2 separate regions of the Homo sapiens genome follow, and region 2 is linked to region 1. The links come from fine-mapping of genetic effects on gene expression. A gene starts in region 1. The other region holds a variant in brackets. All regions are shown on one strand. Distances are from middle to middle.

The links.
Region 2: its variant is fine-mapped to the expression of LINC02716 in putamen (GTEx, PIP 0.98). The same link has a PIP of 0.9 or more in subcutaneous fat.

The regions. Positions count from the first base shown.
Region 1 is chr11:45,766,160-45,776,062 of GRCh38, reverse strand. LINC02716 (long intergenic non-protein coding RNA 2716) reads right to left here and starts at 4,631. Exons shown (of 2, transcript NR_027134.1): 1 at 4,349-4,631; 2 at 3,705-4,070. RefSeq lists an enhancer at 4,438-4,939.
Region 2 is chr11:45,802,418-45,813,357 of GRCh38, reverse strand. It overlaps SLC35C1 (solute carrier family 35 member C1), which reads right to left and starts at 8,209. Exons shown (of 2, transcript NM_018389.5): 1 at 7,022-8,209; 2 at 342-2,582. The coding sequence starts at 7,556. The coding sequence ends at 2,023. RefSeq lists enhancers at 5,931-5,990, 9,255-9,414 and silencers at 7,955-8,184, 8,915-9,084. The variant C/G (reference allele first, on the strand shown) is at 6,014.

The DNA of each region.
Region 1 (9,903 bases):
TCTTGTATCATAGACTTTCCCTCCCAGTCCAGAAGGGCTTCCTGGAGGAGGAAGAATTTCAGGCTGACATTAGGACCTGGGTTTGATGAAACTGAGTATAGCAATTCTTTAGTATTATCAGGCAACATAAATCTCTACTCCCAGCTATCTGTCCTCTCCCCATGCACACTTATTGGCAGCTGGCACCTTTCGTGACTCACATGATAAAGATTTTTAGAAATGTAACTCAAGGTAGGAAGGACATAGACACTCTTATAGTATTATTGGATATGAAAATTATGCAGGTGGGTGATTTCCCCTAGGAGACAATTCTATGTGAGTTTTAGACATCTTGCCGGAAGCTAGGCCATGATAAGGATCCCATCTCCTTTCCCCTGTCCTTATGATCAAAAGCCCCTGCTTCCCCATATTTTTTCTCATTCTAAAGCAGGGTCAGAAAGAGCCAGAAATGACTGAGTCTCTAGGTGGGAGGCTGGAGGCAAGCAGAAGAGGGGCTTGGGGGAGAGGGGAAGGGAGGCAGAGAGGGGAGGGAAGTGTGGGCCTGAGGTAGAGTCCTTTCTTTTATTTTTGTAGACTTAGGTTATTCACTGTGAGAGTCCTTTCTTTTTGCTTTGTTTTTTGAGAGAGATTCTTGCTCTGTCACCCAAGCTGGAGCGCAGTGGCGCGATCTCGGGTCACTGCAAATTACACCTCCTGGGTTCAAGCGATTCTCCTGCCTCAGCCTCCCGAGTAGCTGGGACTACAAGTGCCTGCCACCATGCCCGGCTAATTTTTGTATTTTTAGTAGAGAGGGGGTTTTGCCATGTTGGTCAGGCTGGTCTCGAACTCCTGGCCTCAAGTGATCCACCTGCCTTGGCCTCCCAAAGTGTTGGGATTATAGGCCTGAGCCACTTGCCCAGTGAGAATCCTTTTCTGACTGCATGGTTTGGCCCTGAGTGGACACTTGGAATTCAGGCTACAGGCCGGGAAAACATTACCATCCTTGCACCTGCTGGGTGGGCGCCCATTCTGTCCGACCAGGAAACAGGTCCCAGCACCCAGGTGCTAGGCATACAGCGAGGATAGCCTGGGTGTCTCCTGCTCTCAGGACCACCTTGTCTGGTGGGAGACATGCATATGTAGAAACATGGGAACATGGCAGAAGAGGCAGGAATGGAGCTGGGGGCTTTGGACCTAGGGCAGGCATGGCTGAGCTAGGCCATTTCATTCTCTCCTCCTGAAGAATGGCCCCCTTCCTTCTGCTATTGTTCTGTGGAGTCCTTCTCTGGTGCTTGGGAGCCCAGCCAGCAGTAGCCTCAGTGACCCCAGGGACAGGCCCCCACAACAGCAGAGGAGAGAGAGAGGGACCGGGGTGTTGGCGGCGAGGCTGGTGTGGAGATAGGGAGATGAATGTCTTAGCTGGAGGAGCTGGAGAAGTCCAGGCTGCCCATTTTTCAGAGGGGAAAGCTGAGGCCCTCATAGAGCAAGGGATTGTCCAGGGAAAGGAACGTGAGTATCGAGGAAGAAAAACCTGGGGGGCAGGGGCCCAGAAGAGAAGGCAGATCCCTCTCCACCCCACCCCAGGCAGGAAGCCCAGGCTCCAACCACCGCCTTTGGGCCAGGCACCTCTGCTGTCCTCTGAAGGGGTGGGGAGGATGAGTGTGGCTTCTGGCCCACTGGACATGCTTGCAAGGCACATTTGCAGATTTGCTGCTGCAAGGGGAGGGGTGGGCTGGTGGGGAGGTGCCGGCCTGATGGGGCACCTGGAGGGTGGAGAGACCCCTAGGCTCCTGTTTACTCCCCCTCAAGTCTCAGAGGCAGCCCAGAGGCAGAAGGAGACTTGATGGACACTTGCGCAAAGTCAGGGCTGGACCGGGCAATTCCACATGCAGTTCTCCTGGCTGGTGAATTCTTGAATTAGTGGGAGGGCAGGTTCACTCTCCAAAGTTGGACCATAAATTCTCCGAGGGGCAGGATCGCCTCACCCGGACACTGGCCCTTATACATCCCAGGGTACCAGTAAATGTACGCCTCATCCAGTCGCTTTTCTAACTGCAACAAGAGCGAAGGAATATTTATTGGGCACTTACTCTGTTCTAGACACTATCACAGCAGGGACTGCTTTTCATTCTGGCACCAATTCTGGGAAGTAGATGGTATTATTATCCCCATTTGACAGAGGTGGAAACTGAGGCCCAGAAAGGTGAAGTGCCTTGCATAGAGACTTGCTCAAGGTCACATGCAAATGGAATCAGGACTGGAATCCAAGTGGGTTCAGAGCCTGCCCTGAATGCCCCACTTTTCCTCCTTCCTAGGGCCCGTGGCACTCTTTCTGGGGCCAAGCTCAGGCCAAGCTGAAGGAGCCATTCTGGAAGCAATTCTGGGCAGACGAAGGCCAAGAAGCCAATTCACAGCGGTTGTGCTGACGAGTTTCTTGGCAATGTGGAAAGTCTGACGATCTTACAAATGTGTGAAACTGAGACTCAATTTTCCCTCATCCTACCTCCCCTTTCTACCCACCCTCCAACATGGATCTAAATATGGATGCTATATTGGGGGAGTAGCCCCCCTCTCTAGACTGCAAGAGAAGATGACGTTGGGGAGGAGGTGGGGCCAGCCAAATTGGGCAAGAGCGGCCTCAGATGATGCTGCCTCCAAAAAGGTCCCTGTGTAAGTATGAGGTGGGTGGCTGAGATTTCTGAAATCCGTATCTGAGATGACTAGGTGGAGTCATACATTTCCACCCTTCTGGGGTTAAGGACACAGCCTTAACCATTTAGGGTGACCATTTAGGGTGAAGTCACTGTTTATGGGAGTCTAAACTGTGACTTTGGCAAGGTGCAATATAAAAATGCTAATACATGTTTATGCACTAAGCTGGAAATAATGCCAAGCCCCTCAGTTAAAAAAAAACCTGTCAAGAATTGCAGTTTCCTTGAGTCGGAGGAACTAAGTGAGCTGTTAAATGAGGACTGTAAACCTGCCACATGGCGACGTTGCTTTGGTTATTAAATAGAAATACCTGCTTTCTATATGCATGCACTGTTGTTTACATGCCTCTGAATTTCTAATTTCTGCAGGAGATTCTGGTGACTGGTGTGCCATTTTCTCAATGTTCACAGTTATTATAACTTTAAATATTTTACCCATATCCTGTAACAATGTCATCCAAGTGTTCTTTAAGTGGTGGTGCTGAAAAACGCACCTGAAAATCGATAACATTGGAAAGGAAGTGAGATGTGATAAAACGTTATGAAGAAGGCCAAACCACCGGCAGGAAATGCTGCACTGTTAATTTAGCAGAGAGTGCGTTATGAAATATTAGCGATAATGCCAGGGAAATAAAAAGCAGCATTAAGGCAAAAATATGCCACAATTGGAGTAATGTATGCAACCTATCCTTTCTACTTTGCATTCATTTCTCTGGCAAAATTAGTCAGAAATTATGCACGCTTTGAATTATGCAAGTTTTTCAGGACCACATGCTTTGCATAAAACTCTACTGCCCTGAGGTTCTCAGTGGGTGGAAGAATGAGTGACCATATTCTAGGGTTATCTTAGGCCAGGCCGTTGTACCCTCCTGTCCTAGGTGGGGATGAAGTGACCTCATGTGTAAAATGGGACCGTTGGACTGGCTTGTCTTTCTTTCCTTATTAGACTATGTCGAGACAGGCACCATTATATTTCTGCCCCAAAGGTGTCTTTTTCTGGACGGATCCCACAGCTGATACCAAACTTGTCTTTATTAACTGTGAGGCTGGCCATTCAAACACCAGGTGCCAGAGAGGGTCCCTCACTCATCGGAATCCGGGTGGGATGAATCCTCGGAGGCAAGGTCCCTCCACCTTCACCCTAGAGTCACACAGAGACTTGCCCTGGCGGCTGGTGACAGGTGGGCGGGAGAAGAAAAGGCCCCTGGGGAGCAGGAGAAAGCCAGGTGCCATGGGGACCCAGCGCCGCTGGAGGGCAGCACCAGCACACAGCTGAGGCCGCCTCTCCCGGAGCCCGGAGGGAGCTGGGTTCCGGTCGCCAGCGGTGCCCGGGTGAGCAGTTCACCCTCACGTCCCTGCTCTGACGAAGTTTCCATTCTTCTGGAGAAGACAAAATAAACGTGAACAAATGAACAAGTGTGCATTGTCAGGCAGCAAGTGTTGGTACAAACAAGATAGTGGTGGGGGTGGGGACACCGTTAAATAGGGGCCAGGGAGGCCTAACCCGGGAGGGGATAGCTGAGATGCCACTTGAGTGGAGAAAACAGTCCGAGATCTGAAGGTGTTCATGGAGAGGGGAAGGGGCCCCTAGAGGAGTCGGGAAAGCCTGGGTCAGGGAAGACGAGAAAACTGAGGAACAGAGAAGCCAGGTAACTTACCCAGGGTCATAGAGCCGGTGAGCTGGGGACAGCGCCTGTCAACGCCCCAGAGCCTTCCACGGCACTGGTTTCTCCGACCTTCCTCTCTAAACAGGACCGTGACAGTGACAGTTTCTGCCCCACTCCCCATTTCTGACCGCAGTCCCCATAAGGAAACAGGGCAGGGATCACTGGCTGTGAGCCCAGCAAGTCCCCTCCCGTGGCTTTCTCAGTTATTAAATGGAAGGGTGGGTCCCCCCATAACTCCGAAGCTCCCCTCTCTAAGCGTCCGCGGGCCGGGAACGCCTGAATTCTGGCTCCCGAGCACCTTCTTGTGGACAGTTTTGGAATCACACGCTCAGCGAGAAAGGGTCGTGGGAAAATGGTCTGTGCTAATTTCGGAGAGGCCAGTGGATTGGAAGGTTATCACTGAGGGTGGGTGCACGTGTGTGTGTGTGTGCGCGCACGTGCATGCGTGCATGCATCTGTGTGCCTGTGTGTGTTGGTCTGTGTGTGAATGTACCTCTGTGCGTATCTGTGTGTATGGTTGTGTGTGAGCACATACTGCCCGAGCCTGTGTGTGTGTGAGTGTGTGTGTGCACTAATGTTTGTTTATATGGGCACAGGCACACACATGTCCATGTCCATGTGTGTGTACCTGCATCTGTATTTTTTCGTCTGGTGTATGGGCTTGTTTTTGTGTGCCTGCATGCATGTGCCCATGTGCGTGTGTGTTTTGGGAACTGGGACACAGAGGATGATATGAGAAGTCCCCAGTCTTTCTCACAAAGGCCTAACCACTCTCCCTGAAGCCAGCTTTCTCCCCTACTTGCTTCTGTCTGCACCATCACCTGAGTTCTCCCACCTGAACTTTTCACCGACATTTTTGATGATTTTTCTGTTTTGTGTCCGTTGAGGCTCATTTGAATGTTACAGATCATAGCTCAAGAAATGATTCTCAGGCCGGGCATGGTGGCTCATGCCTGTAATCCCAGCACTTTGGGAGGCTGAGGCAGGTGGATCGTCTGAGGTCAAGAGTTCAAGACCAGCCTGGCTAACATGGTGAAACCCCGTTTCTACTAATAATAACAAATTAGCCAGGTGTGGTGGCGTGTGCCTGTAATCCCAGCTACTCGGGGGGCTGAGGCAGGAGAATCACTGGAACCGGTGAGGCAGAGGTTGCAGTGAGCTGAGATCCCTGGGTGACACAGCGAGACTCCGTCTAAAAAAAAAGAAAGAAAGAAGTGATTCTCCTCTAGTCTACTCACCCAAATCATGAGTTTCACTTCTCAGGTGGGCTGATCACCCACTGTCCTGTTGAGACCTGGGGACTTGTACAAAGTCGTACCCTGGAGGGTTGAGCAGAAAACCAGGCACATAGTAACTAAGACAATGGCGCGTTAGCAAAGCACTCCACACATCCCGTTCACATGTGTGTCTTACTTGACTCACAAACTGATCTTTCATCCTTTTTTTTTTCCTTTTTTGTGGTGAACAGGGTCTTGCTATATTGCCCAGGCAGGTCTCAAACTACCGGCTGATCTTTCAAGCCTAGGCAAGGTGAGGCTAATTATTCCCATTTTACAGATGAAGACACTGAGGCTCAGAGAGGGAAATAATGAAAATAGTACTGCAGGAACCATCTAACCAATATGCAAACTCTCTCATCCAGTTTTCATAACATCATCAATTCCCTTCTTTAAAAGACAAGGAGATGGAGGCTTTAAAAATGTAAGGCGAGTGCTTAATGCCATATAGCCAATCAGTAGTTGAGGCAGGATTTGAATCTCGCTCCAGAGATTAAAGCCCAAGTCCTAAACACAATGGCAGGCGTGAGGGCCCTGGGCACACACTGACTCAAGCTCTTTCAGCCACACACTGTCCCTTTGCCATGCCTCTGGGGTCCTAAGAACATCCTCCTCTGAGCCCACAGGGAGGTCATTCCCCATCCTGGGTGCCCCTGCTCCTCTCCCAGATGCGGGGCAGGTGAATCTTGTAACCTGTGTCACTCTCAGAGGCTGAGATGGGGACTGAGCATTAATTATGCAATAACCTCGCTGTGGTGTGCCTAATTGTCTGATAACCATAATTGAATCTTATGGATTACACCAACATTATTGCAGGGAGCAGCTTAAGGCAGTTAACAGAAGCTGCACTCACTTTGTGATATCTTCCTCCTGTCTCCTTGCTGGCTGGGCTGTGAGTCCTTTCCTGGGGGCTGAGGGAGGCCTCGAGGTGCAGGGGGCAGGCAGGAGGTGAGTGACAGCACAAATGTCGCATCACCTTATCCCCCCGAGGGCACCATCTTCCTGGCTGAGAAAAGTCTGTGTGGCAGGTGGAATTATCATTTTGTAAATGAGAATGTGGCATCAGAAGGCTGAGAGACTCTCCCAATTTCAGTCTTGCTCATTGCTACTGGTCCTTGCTAGCATCATCTGGGACTGTTTAGACGTGCAGCATCTCAGCTGGGCTCGGTGGCTCACGCTTGTAATCCCAGCACTTTGGGAGGCCAAGGCGTGTGGATCATGAGATCAGGAGTTTGAGACCAGCCTGACCAACATGGTGAAACCCCGTCTCTAAAAATTAGCTGGGCATGGTGGTGCGTGCCTGTAATCCCAGCTACTCAGGAGGCTGAGGTAGGAGAATTGCTGAACCTGGGAGGCGGAGGTTGCACTGAGCCGAGATCACGCCACTGTACTCCAGCCTGCGTGACAGAGCAAGACTCCGTCTCAAAAAAAAAAAAAAAAAAAAAGAAATGCAGCATCTCAGGCCCCACCCTGGACCTACTGAATCAGAAGCTGCATTATTTTTTATTAAATGAATTTTTTTTCTTTAAAGAGATGAGATTTTGCTCTGTCTTCCAGGCTGGAGTGCAGTGGTGCGATTGTGGCTTGCTGCAGCCTCGAACTCCTGGGCTTGAGAGATCCTCCAGCCTCAGCCTCCCTAGTAGCTGGGACTACAGTCGGAGCCACCATGCCTGGCTCTCAGAATCTGCATTGTAATAGCATCTCAGGTGATTTATTTTCACGTTGCCGTTTGCTGAGTGCTGGTTTATGTAATTATTTATTCATTGCCTATGTGGGATCCATTGCCCTTTCTTGTGTCAGCAACACCTTGACTTCCATTTGGGAAATAACCCTTCTTCCCATATGGGAGACCCCTAGCTGTACCCTTACTCCTACCTCCCTCAGGCATTGACCCCAGGCCAGGCCAATGAGTCAGTTCCAAGATCTTTGAGGCACTGTTGAGGAAGACGTGTTTGATGGAGTTTTGCTGAGGCTTCTTCATTCCCTCCCTCCCTTGCATGGTTCACTGTGGGTGAATATTCTTCCCCACACCATCCATGGTGAGCTCAGCCACTGACTTGCTTTGGTCAATGGAATGTCGGTAGAAGTGATGATGTGTGGGTTCCAAGCTAGGCCTTAAAGAAGTATCTTGTGTTTCCGCTTGCCCCTCTAGAGCTCCTGCCCACCATGAGAAAGGAAGGTACACCCAGGCGACCATGGCACCTTCATCTGGAGTCCAGGATGGAGACTGTGGGGCAAATTGAACCTAACCAGAGACTGGAGTCCAGCCTAACTCTGATATTAACAACCCCCCAACTAACCTGCAGACCCATGAGTATGAAAGGAATGGTTGTTATAAGCAACTGAGATTTTCAGAGTGCTTGTTGCATGGCATTGGTGCAGCAGACACCTGACTGGTATAAAAGACATACTTTCTTTCCAGGGGGATTGCTAAGCTGAATTTGGATTTTAGGTGTTATCTTGTCACTAGGAAAGCAGGGCCTGCCTAAGGGCAAAACCAACCCAGAGGGAAATGGAGCTGAGATAGGATGAGAGCCCTGATCATGATGACAGCCTTTGTTTTCATGGATCCAGCCTCACAGGAGTTAGTCAACTCTTTCAGTCTCAAGGAGTAGAGAGCTGAAACTTCGCTGGCTTAAACCCAAGAAGGAATTAGCGGCTCACATAGCTCAGAAGTCTGGAGGTGATGTGGGTTTCAGGTGAGGCTTGAATCAGTAGCCCCTGGACCAGTGTCCTTGTCTCTCCACTCTGGGTCCCATTTTGCTGGTTTCATCTGGAGGCTGGCTCCCCTTTGTGATATCGTAAAATACATATTGAGTTGTTGTCCACATTTCCTGGCATGTTACTCCTAAAATCTATGGAATCTCCAAAGTGGTAAGTGTCTTTTTGTATGCTAATGAGTTGACAGTTGGCTGGCAGCCCCTAGGTAGCTTGAGGATGGGGGCTACTCCAGAAAGTTCAAGGCAGGATTAGAGGACTGGGGCTTTCAGCCCCACTCCCATTCTCTCTTAGAGGGGAGAGGGGCTGGAAGTTACGTTGATCACCAATGGCCGATGGCTTAATCAATCACGCCTGTGTAATGAAGCCTCCATAAAAACCCTGAAGGACAGGGTCTGGAGAGCTTCTGGACAGCTGGACACACGGGGCTCCTGGAGGATGGCGCTCTGCTCCCCCATACCTTGCCCTATGCATTGCCCATCTGTGTCCTCTGTGGTATCCTTTATAATAAGTGAGTCAACGTGTTTCCCTGAGTTCTGTGAGCTGCTCTAGCAAATTAATCCAACCAATGAGGGGATTGTGGGAACCTCAATTATAGTCAGTTGGTCAGAAGCACAGCTAAAATACTCTGGGACTTGTGATTGGCATCGGGAGAAGGGGAGCATCTTGGGGACTGAGTCCTTAGCCTGTGGAACCTGACGCTATCTCCAGGTGGGGAAGTGAACTGAATTAGAGGACACCGAACTGGTGTCTGCTGCGTAATTGATTGCTTGCTTACTATGTGGGAACGCCTCCCCAAACACCCATCTGGTGTAAGAAGCCCACTGTGAGTGTATAGTGGGAGAAACAGTCTGCTTATCCATGTATTCTCAGACCCTCATTGGAGCACGATGGCGTCCTTGTTCGGGTCTAACAGGAGAGAGAGTGTTTGTTCTGGAAGCGAGGAAGCTTCTTTCTCAGGAGCTGGCAGCAAATGTCTCAGGTCTCATGGCCTCAGGTCAGGTCACATACCGTCCCTGCACCAATCTCAGAGGCTGGAGACAGAATGTGCTGATGGGCCAAGGCTGGCTGGCTGGGGGGCAGGTTAGTGTCACTGAACAGCACAGAGCCTCAAGAGAAATAGGGCTTGGCCTGAGGAGAGGTGTTGGGGATGCTGGCTGGGAAGACGCAGGAGTTCCCTATTGCTGCTGTAAAACAGCATCACAAACGTGGGGGCTTAAAGCAACAAACATTTATTCTCTCACTTTTTTTTTTTTTTAGATGAAGTCTTGCTTTGTCGCCCAGACTGGAGTGCAGTAGATTGATCTCAGCTCACTGCAACCTCCGCCTCCCGGGTTCAAGCGATTCTCCTGCCTTAGCCTCCTGAGTAGCTGGGATTACAGGCTCCCACCACCATGCCCGGCTAATTTTTGTATTTTCAGTAGAGACAGGGTTTCACCATGTTGGCCAGGCTGGTCTCGAACTCCTGACCTCAAGAGATCTTCCTGCTTCAGCCTCCCAAAATGCTGGGATTACAGGCATGAGCCACTGTGCCCAGCCTATTCTCTCACA
Region 2 (10,940 bases), 37 kb before region 1:
ACTCAGCACAGCCTATGGCCCCCAACAAGCATCCAGTAAATGGCAATTACGACTAATAGGAAACTTCAAGTCTGGTCACCTACCTTCCAGGAAGGAGCCTGGTATCCTTAGAAAGAACCAGCTCCTAGAAAGGCTGCCTGCTGGTGGGTGGGCTTGGTGAAGGCAGGGATGAGCCCTCCTTCCTGACAGATCCCCAGCTCCCCTCCACCCCAGGGCCCTGTTCACAAACCTTCTTCAGCCCTGCTGCCTCTGACAGGTCCCAACCTCCCCTCCACCCCCAGGCCCTGTTCACAAATCCTCTCCAGCCCTGCTGCCTCTTCCCTCAGGCCACACACACAGGATCTTATGGATTCTTTATTGAATCACAAACAACTCAGGGCATCAGGCCCCAGCAGCTGCATTAGAACCCATCTGGGATTGTGAGGGGACTGGAGAGGGAGGGGGGAGAAGACCCGCTCTCCCTAGCTTTTCACTATATAGAGTAAAAACATCAGAAATCACCCCAAGAGAAAGGACATACCAAATGCCCACCAGAAGGGCCAGGGACTGCAAGCCACCCTGAGCGCAGGAGGGTGTGGTGAAGGGTGGTATGGCCCCGAAATTTGTGTGTGTCCCCCACTCCCCCTGCAAATTCACATTGGAATTCTCACCCCCAAGGTGACAGTATTAGGAGGTGGGGCCTTTGGAGCTGATTGGGTCATGGGGGCGGAACCCTCATGAACAGGGTTGGAGTCCTTATAAAAGAGGCAGGAAGGAGCTTGCTTGTTTGTGCTTCTACCATTGAGGATACAGCGAGAAGGCACCATCTATGGATCGGGAAACAGCCCTCAGCGGAGTCCGAATCTGCTGGCCTCTTGATCTTGGGCGTCCCAGCCCCCCAGGACTGTGAGCAATACGTTTCTGTTGTTTGTAAGCCACCCGGCCTACGGCATTTTGATATAGGAGCTCGCTGGACTAACAGTGGGGCCAAGCAGGCTCTGTCAGCCACAACCTCAGGGAAGAATGTAAAGGTTGGTGTCTTACCATCACAAGGCAAGCGGCTCAGAACCAGCTGTAACACCTCCCTTGCAGAGATCTAGGGGCGCCAGACACAGCTGGGGTGGAAGGCTCCTAGTCTGGACCCTTGCTCCATCAGCCCCACCTGGGGAGGAAGGCTTCTGGGGAGGTAGAACTGGGAGAAGAGAGAAGCAGCTCCTTGGCTCTGCTTTCAGAAGGCTGTTACCTGGGCCAGGTGCTGGGAGACCAGAGGGACAGGTGCCACTCAGGGCCAGAGGAGCCACGCAGGACAATGTGATGTTAGGGACTGGGGGAGGATGTTAATGACCCTGCTTAACCTCTAAGAGAAGCATGGTTCCCTTGTGTTCAAAAGCTGGACATACAGGGTGTATAGATGGTGAGCACTTTCTCACAATCCACCCCATTCCCAGGCCACTGCCCAGCAGCCCCTGGGGATCTGCTGGTGTCAGAGGGAACTCGCTCATTTCCTCCCTCAGTCCAGGCCACACTTTCCTCCAAAGGAAGGCCGGTCTGTGGGCCCAGGGTGAGGCTGCCTGCCCACCGCAGACGGAAGGCTTCCCAACCCTCTCCAGGTGGCTGTGGTAGGGCCATCTCCCCTGAGTACAGTGAAGCCTTTGTGGCTTTGCCATTGCTGTCCCTTCAAGGTTGTTGCCTGTCCCTGTCCTCAGAGTGATGTGGAGGCAGACAGGCCCTGGAGGCAGAAGGAAGGGGTTCAACTCTCACTAGGGTGCTCCCTCGGGAAGGACAAAAACTCAGAAATACGAGAGGATAGAGAAGGGTTTGGCAACTTTCTGGTATTACTTGTAAACACTGGTTCCTTCAACTTTCTGATATTACTTGTAAACACTGGTTCCTTCTCAACCACCGTATTCTGATTGGGTCTATAAGTAGCACCCAGTCCACACCACAGCACGCTTCTGGGGTCCAGGAGACCGCCTTCACTACTGTGCTGGCCCCGCCTGTGTACGGGCCCCGGGGCCGGGCCATCCAGGGTGCCTGTGGTGCTCACACCCCCATGGCGCTCTTCTCGCTGTCTTTGGGGCTGGGCTCCTCCGGAGTCTTCTTCATCTCCCAGCCCCTGACCCAGGTGTAGGCGGAGGAGCCGCCCAGCACCATCATGTTGCTCGTCCACCAGAGGAAGCTCTTGGTCTCCTCGTAGTAGAGCACGGCCAGCACTGTCTGGGCACAGGCCTTGGCCGTGCCCGACACATTGTGGGTCAGCGGACTGGTGAACTTGATCTGCAGTCCTGTCACGTAGCCGATGGCAAAGCCAAACAGGCCGCCCAGCGTCATCATCCCCCAGAAGTGGGCACTGCCCAGCTGGGCAAAGTCACGCAGGGCCTGAAGCTCCCCGAGCAGCAGGAGCAGGGGCAGGAAGAGGATGCAGGCGTTGACGTTGTTGTAGAAAGTCAGGCGCCAGATGCTGCCGTCCACCGCCGGGAGCACCTTCGTGGTGTAGATGGCGTTGAGCGAGACACAGAGGCTAGCCAGCACGCCGAAGACGGTGCCCAGCCACGACAGGGTGCCTTCTGCCCCCTCCTGGTCCACACCAAGCCAGAAGCCCCCTGCAGTGGGGAGAGGAGGAGTGGGGAAGGGTGAGGAAGAGGGATGAGGACGAGGAGGAAGAAGGACAGAGGATCAGACACCAAATTTCACAGACTGAGTATTGCGGCCCTCCCCGTTCCTCCCCAGGCCTCCCTCCAATAAGCACAGCCAGAGTCTCCACTGCAGGCAAAGCACTCCACATGAACTATGGGAGCCGCCCAGGGCAAGAAAACCTCCTCTGGCAGCTTATCTGCTAGCAGAGGAGAAAGACATTAAAACAAATCTTCCCAGTTACTTCTTTAATTACAATTGTAAGAATTGTAATGAGGTCCATAAAGTAGTACAAGGTGCTGTGAGAGCCTGTAAGTGGGCGACTGTGCTGGCCTGGGGCATCTGAAAATAACAGTTGAACTGAGTTCTGAAGAATGAGTGCCACTTAGTGGTTAATGTGATTTAAGGTGACCCTGCGTAAATGACTTCCAGTGTCTAAGCCTTGGCTGCTTCTTGCATGGAATGGGAGCCTATGATGTCATCATGGGGCACATTAAGTTAGAATCTCTTGTGTCATTTGGGGCAGTGACTCTGAGACTCTCATCTTGTGTCACTTCCTGCTCAAAGAGCTTCCGTGGCTCCCCACTTCTGCCATGAGGACTACACTCCTTGGCGTGGCAGGCGGGGGTGCAGGCCCTTCCTCTGTCCTATGGTCGCCCCAGCTTCCCTGCTCGTCTCCCTGCTTCTCACCCTGGGCCTCAGTGTCCTTGTTCATGTCCTGTGCCAGAAACACCCTCCTCCTTTCTGGGGGATTCTACTCATCTGTCAAGGTCAAAGTTGGCTTCTCCTGGGGAATCCTTTCCTGATAATCCCAGAACCTGGACTCTTACTGCCTCGCTTTCCTGCAAAGCCCCTTGCCTGCTCTGGGCTGCTGGGCCCCTGCCCATGGTGACAGTCTGGTCTTTTTAGCCAGATCCCATGCTCCCAGAAGCCAGGGGCTGAACAATGCATGTTATACTTCCTGCCACAGCATCTGGCAACACGGGGCAGTGGGGAAAGTTTTGGGGTCAGAGGGATTTAGCCTCCAATCAGGCTCTGCAATTTAGAAGCTGAGTGGCCTGGGAGAAGTTACTTAACCACTCTGAGCTCTCTGGGTCACCTCCCTGTCCTCCACTCCAGCCAATCTACTCTCCACCTTGCAACTGATATGATCATCCTGAAGTCCAGATCGGTCCAGGCTGTGCCCTGGTGTGAAGCCTCTCTGTGGCTCTCCACTGCCTTCAGGAGAAATTCCACTCACTCACCACAGCTCTTAGGACCTGCACCACGTGGAGTCGGCCTGACTGGGCAGCCTTGTGTCTGGTGAGTCTTGCTGTGGCCCAGCCATGAAGAAGTGCACGTGCTCTTCCTTCTATCTAGAATGTTCTGTCCCTACTTCTTCCTCTAAACCCAGTTTCTAAACTTCCTCCAGAAGGCCTGCTTAGACTGCCCTGTCCCCGGGTCCCCTCCCTTGCCCAGAGCTCCCACAGCCCCTTTTATGCATGCCCCATCACAGCCCTTACTATGCTAGCGTAACTGTCACCACCATGCCCTCCAGGAGTGTAGGAGCTGAGGTTACCTTTTCCAAACTTGTATCCCCAAAGCCTGGCATGGTGCCTGGCATGTGTTTAGCCACCAATTACTAGTCGTGGAATGAATGAATGAAAGTTGTTATGGAGGTGGTTGTATTAAAGGAGACAGGATACTTCCTACATCATAGGCACTCAACACACAGCACTCTTCTCTTTTTCTCTTTGTTTTTTGAGACGGAGTCTCGCTGTGTCACCCTGGCTGGAGTACAGTGGTGCGATCTTGGCTCACTGCAACCTTCGCCTCCTGGGTTCAAGCGATTCTCGTGCCTCAGCCTCTTGAGTAGCTGGGATTACAGGGATGCGCCACCATGCCTGGCTAATTTTTGTATTTTCAGTAGAGAGGGGGCTTCACCATGTTGGCCAAGCTGGTCTTGAACTCTTGACCTCAGGTGATCTGCCCGCCTCAGCCTCCCCAAGTGCTGGGATTACAGGCATGAGCCACCATGCCCAGCCCAACCACAGAGCCCGACCCTCCTCTTTCTTGACAGAACCTTTGCACAAGGGGTACCCACAGACCTGCTGGGGGTAGGGTGAGGGGGGCAGAGGGCTGCACCACCCACTCACCTGCTTGGCTACAGCACCCCTAGCCCTCCTGGTGGTTACCTTCTGAGTCCAGAAGCAACTGCAACATCAATGTTCTAGAGCGACTCTTGCCCAGAAAGAACTTTTTTTTGAGACTGTGTCTTGCTCTGTCGCCCAGGCTGGAATGCAGTGGCGCGATCTTGGCTCAATGCAACTTCTGCCTCCCGGGTTCAAGCAATTATCCTGCCTCAGCCTCCCGAGTAGCTGGGATTACAGGCACATGCCACCACGCCCGGCTAATTTTTTGTATTTTTAGTAGAGACAGGGTTTCACCATGTTGGCCAGGCTGGTCTCGAACTACTGATCTCAGGTGATCCACCTGCCTCAGCCTCCCAAAGTGCTGGGATTACAGGCATGAGCCACTGTGCCTGGCCCAGAAGGAGCTTTGAAAGTTACTGTGTGACATGGGGGGCTAGGAGGGGAGGCCTAGAATAGTTGCCTGAGACTCGTCTTCCCCTACAAGGAGGAAGAAAGAGGAAACATTGCAGATAGGGAGCCAGGTCCTGGGCTGGCAGAGAGCGTCCACCTCCCTGGCCCCTGTCCCAGTCAGGCACGCCCGTGAATGCACCATTCTCAGAACCTCACCACTGGTTACTTGGATTACCTTTGGGATTTGGGCCCAGTTACCCTAGTGTCTTCACCTTCCTGCAAGCAAATTCTCCAACTAGGAGCCTCTACCCCTGAGGCCACTCCTGGCAGGGTCAGCAGGAATGAAGTAGAGAGCCCTGGGGCATCTGAGGAGGACAGGGAGGAGGGGAGGTACACCTGTTCCCTGGAGAGGGAAATGGAAGCAGGCTGGGAGAGTTCTGGCAGGGGGGGTCTTGCAGCTTCCCCTACTCTAACTGTGACCTTCTCCCTTCTCCCCTCTTGGACTTAGACCCAGCAGCCCTAGATCCAGCAGCTGCTCAACAAGGGGAAACATTTTCTAGGACAGGTGGCATGGGATGGGTCCCTTCCCCCACCAACCGGTGCATCTAGCCTGGGACCCTGAGCCATCAGCAAAGAATATGATATGTAGGCCAAATAAGATAAACTTTATAGCACCAGGAAAAACCAGCATAGGTTCAAATGAAGACCCCATTCCTAGATGACGCAGCCCTGGGAAGACTCGGAGGGAATGGGATGCTGGAGGCTCTCTAACGCAGCATGGGGCCCAGTAAAATATGGGCCCATCTAACCTGTGCTGTCCCATACCATAGCCCTCAGCCACATTTGGCTACTGAGCCCTTGAAATGTGGCTAGAAAAT[C/G]AGGTTGTAACATCTGCAAATGAGGAAGTGAATGTTTAACATTTTGCTTAATTTTAACTAATTTAAATAAGTGGCCAATGGCTACTGCATTGAATACTGCAGTTCTAACCTCCAAGACGAGCAGAGGGGATAGAAGCACAGGCCTGGGAGTCTGGCCAATCTGGGTTTGCATCCCAGCCTGGCTGCTTGCTAGCTGTGTGGCCGTGGGCAAGTAATGTAACATCTCTGAGCCTCAGTTTCCTTGTTTGTATAGAGATGACCGCTGGTAGTGATGCCACAACCCAGGGGATCTCTGGGAGAACAAAGGAGATGCTATATGTGAAATAATTAGCATAATTTCCCCATCAATAATTATTATTTTCTGAGGGTCAAGTCCAGGAAGACAGCTGAGGCCTCTCAAAGCATATTGCTTGCTACTGTCTCAGGCGCTATCCTGAGCTGGCAGAGAGTGATGGTATATTTATTAAAAGACGTATTGTCCTCTACTAAGAGCACTGGCTGGGAAATCAGGACACCTGAGCTCTTGAGAAACAATAAAGTACAGTGGTCGGGCATGTGAACTGTGAAGCCAGATTGCTTGAGTTCAGATCCCAGCTCTGCCACTTATTAGCTGGGTGATCTTGGACAAGTTAGTTAACTTCTCTGTGCCTTGGTTTTTCCCTCTGTAAAATGTGGATTATAATCCCATCTTGTTATGAAGATTAGCTGAGTTAATATGGCTAAGATCCATGTGCCTGGCACATTTTAATCACTCAACAAATGTCAGTTGCTTTTGCTGCTGTTGTTACTATTATTATTACTATTGTTCTTGCCCCGGCTGGGCTCCTAACTTGCTGGGTGACCTTTAGTAAGTTACTTGCTCTCTCTGTGCCCCCAGGCTCTTTCTCCTATGACTGCTGCACCAAAGGAGCTGGGACAGATGAAGTCCTAGGATGCCTAGAAGAGTTGTTCTTCACTGCTTCAGTCCCCATGACCACTCTATCCCCCGTGGCCCCAGCTGCCACTCACCGATGATGATACCGCAGGTGAGCAGGGCATAGAAGGAGGTGGTCTGCTTGAGCAGCAGGTAGGAGAGCAGCACGTTGAAGACGGTGGTGAGTGAGCGGCCCACATTGTAGAAGGCCACACCGACGTACTTGAGGCAGAGGTTATTGAAGGTGATCATGCCGATGAAGACCACCGACAGGGGCAGGACGCTGCGGGCCACCCTGAGGTCCAGGCGCAAGCTGGGGAAGTCCACGGCACCAGGGCAGCAGGCGGCCAGAGCGCTGAGGCCTTTGCACAGCAGCGTGGTCACCAGGCACTGGTAGAAGGTGACGAAGATGGGGGTGTCCAGCCGCAGGGAGGGGCTGTCCAGCAGGTACTTATTAAGGAACACCATGGAGATGGAGGTGACCCAGTAGAGGGAGACCACCAGCGCGATCTGCAATGCCCGCAGCAGAAAGGGCTTCTCCCCGTTGGCCTCTGCCTCTGCAGAGGGGTCTGAGGCCCCGGTCAGCGCCATGTGCAGGATCCTGGACCGCTTCAGAGGGGCCCTATTCATGGTAGCAGAGGAGCTGGGTCACCCCGCGGCCAGAACTCTGATTCCCTGGAGTCCAGGGCAGTGAGCTCACTTGTGCTCTCCGCAAGGAAGCCGCAGCCCTCCATTGTCACATGTGGGCTGGCCTAAAGGCCTCCCCATTGTCCTCATGGATTGAGAAGTTCTGCTTTGGGGTGAGCCCAGTTGTGCTGCTCCACAACCTACTCCCACCCCGAGGGGGCTCTGAGACAAGACACAGGGCAAGGGAGAGGAATAGGATAAGGCGGTGAGGCCAGGACAGAGAAGACCTGTGAGGGGAGAAGAGGCTGGGGCCTAACAGGGAGGGGTCGCAGAGAGAAGGGAGGGGAGAGGAATGGCAGGGCGGGGCAGGAGTAGGTACGCGGGGCGAAGGTGCAGGAAAAGGACGCGTGGCAGAGTGGGAAGAGGTGCCGAGAGGGCGTCATGGGCGGCTGTGGGAGGGAGGGGCGGGCAGGGGGAGGGAGGCGTACAGGGAGCTGCCGGAGGCCGGGCGCGGCTGGAGGGAGGGCTGCGGAAGGGTCAGAGGGGCTCGGGGCTTGGGGCTGAAGGACGCGGGAGGGGGCTGGGCCGGCGCCCACGTCTCGCTGCCTTCCCGGGCTCTGTCGCCGGCTCAGCCCAGGAGCCTCCGGACATCCGAGGCCGACTCCCCGGGAGGCGGGCCCTGGACTCACTTCCTGACACGCCCCCACGTGGCCTTAAAGGGCCCGCACGCCCCGCCTTGCCCTTAAAGCGACAGCCCCAGAGAGGCGGAGTTCGCCAGTCCCCAGCCCCGCCCCTGCGCTCCGCTGCCCGCTGCTGGCGGGGGACCTCGGCAGCCACAGGTTTTTCTGGGTGCTTGAGCCTCGCCCTGCTTCCTGGAAGGGCTCCATCAACCTCGCCTGCCCACCCTCAGCTCCGTCCGCCCCGGAGCCTCCGTCCCCCGACTTGGCTAGGCTTGGCTCGCAGGTCCACTTCCCGGAACCCCGACCCAGGACCCGGGCGGCGCTACATCAGCCTGGACCCCTCCACCTCCGGAGACTCGCGTTGCAGCCCCGCGTCCCTCTGCCAATCCGAGCTCACTCTTCCATAACAATGTTGTGGTCCCCTCCTTTCCCCCCATTTTCACCGCCCCCAGGCCCTCTCCCAAGCCCGAGACCCCCGGCAGCGCTCCCCGAGGCCGGAGGCCACGCCGCCTCTCTCGGACTTCAGTTTGTCCTCCCTGTGCTCCTGTCGAGGTCCTCTGGGCGGCCCGGATCCGAGATTCCAAAGGCTCAAGACAGCATCTCTTACCCCTTCCAGAAAATACTGTTTCCCCGGCCGGTCCAGCCGCATCAGCTCCCGCGTCCCTGCCTGTGTCCCCGGGCCGCGAAGGCGACCTGGCGCTCACCTCCTCCGGTGCACTGGGCGCCCGCCCCGCGACCCCGTGCTGCATCTGCAGCGCCGCACCCTGGGCCGCGCCCGCGGGATCGACTTCCTGCTTTCCGCCCCGGGCCCGGGCACCTTGCCAGCCTCGCCGGCCTGTTCGCGGCATGGGCCCCGGGGGTGCCGGCGGAGAGGCGGTGATCCGGACGGTCGTGGGAGGAGGCCCTCTCCTCTTTCCAAGGCTACTCCTGTCCCTGGTACCCCCGCCCGCCCGGGACCCGGCTTCAGTTACCGCAGCTGGCACGTCCCGGGACTTGGCTGTATCCCTGGCCCGCCGCGCTACCGGCTTGCACTTCCAGAAGTGCGTGCGGGGACCGCTCGGATTCTTCCAGCTGGCAGTGAGGGGGAGGGTTCCCCGCCCCTTCCAGGGCCGGGGCCTGGGAAGTCTAGCCTGTGGTCTGCCACTCACCAGGCAGCCGGGGAGACCAGGAGGATCGACTTCTCTTGGTTCGCGCTCTAGCACCTGCGTTGGGCAGGCCACTTTCTCCGACGGCCTGAGTTATCTTCATGGTAAAACTAAGGGGCTAGGCTTGACCTGTGGGTCCCAACCTTCTTGCCCAGAACTCTAGGTGGTATGGTCGAACATAGATGTTTGTAATATTTCAAGCACCATTTAATTAGTGCCATTTAATTAACGGGTAAGATGATGTCATGGCTGGGATTTGTTTTAAAATACTAAGAATACTTACCAAAAATATTTTTTATTTTTATTTATTTATTCTTTTTGGGACGGAGTCTCGCTCCGTCGCCCAGGCTGGAGTGCAGTGGTGCTATTTCAGCTCACTGCAACCTCCGTCTCCCGGGTTCAAGCGATTCTCCTGCCTCAGCCTCCCGAATAGCTGGAATTACAGGCGTCCACCACCACGCCCGGTTATTTTTTGTATTTTTAGTAGAGACCGGGTTTCGCCGTGTTGGCCAGGCTGTTCTCTAACTCCTGACCTCAGGTGATCCGCCGGCCTCGGCCTCCCAAAGTGCTGGGATTACAAGCGTGAGCCACCGTGCCTGACCTCAAAAAGATTTTTTTTAAAAGGTTGATAGATTAAATAAGATAAGCCATTGATAGTTGTAGCTAGGCGTAGATACACAAGGACCCATTATAAGAGTTTCCTTACTTTTGTGTACATTTGCAAATTTCCAGAATAAAAAGGTAAAACCTATATAGTACGCTTAAACTCTCAGATCCTAACTGCACAAACCTTCACTGGAGCTGAGCGCAGCCCTGGGTGGGCTGTAGGGAAATGGGAGGGCTGCAGGCTGCAGTGAAGTAAACAGCTGCCCCACAACGAGCCGGGCCCACACCCTACCCTCTTCCACTAGCCCCGGGTACTAGCACTCCCCTCTTCCTCCTCAAGGAATGAGACTCTGCTTCCTAGTTGTGGGCTGTTCTCCACCTGGAGGATACCATCTGGTTACCTTGTCACTTTTGGAACTAAAATATCCCTTTGGGGAAAGAAAGACTCAAGAGGGACTGAGCTGGTCTCCTCAACCCCACCTGGAGAGTCTACCTCTGGGATTTTCCTTTGAAGCTGTGGGTTTTGGTTCATTAAGAGCAATTCGTATCTGTTCCAGTCTCTCCTCTCTTATGCCCGAGAGTTCACCATGACAAACAATTTAGTGACAGACAGGGCAAACTTGTCCCTGAGAGGCCCTGGTGATCTGGAAGGGCCTTCTCCTTAGCACATTAGCAGGAACTTGTCTGATGACTGCTGCCACCTTGAACTGGAGGGAAGAGATATATCTTGTATATAGGCCAGATGCACTTCGCTGAGAGAGGCCCAGGGGCAGTCAGTGCTGCGTGTGTGGGGGACAGTGTGGGCTCTCTATGGAGGCCAAAGTATACCCCTGTCTCCAATCTCTCACATCATACCTGAAATTCTGTCATTAGTGTCACTCCCTTGGATTAAGGTTGTTAACAGGCCAGTACAGCAAGTTTCCTGGATTCTAATCATTTTATCCCTTATGAGGGAA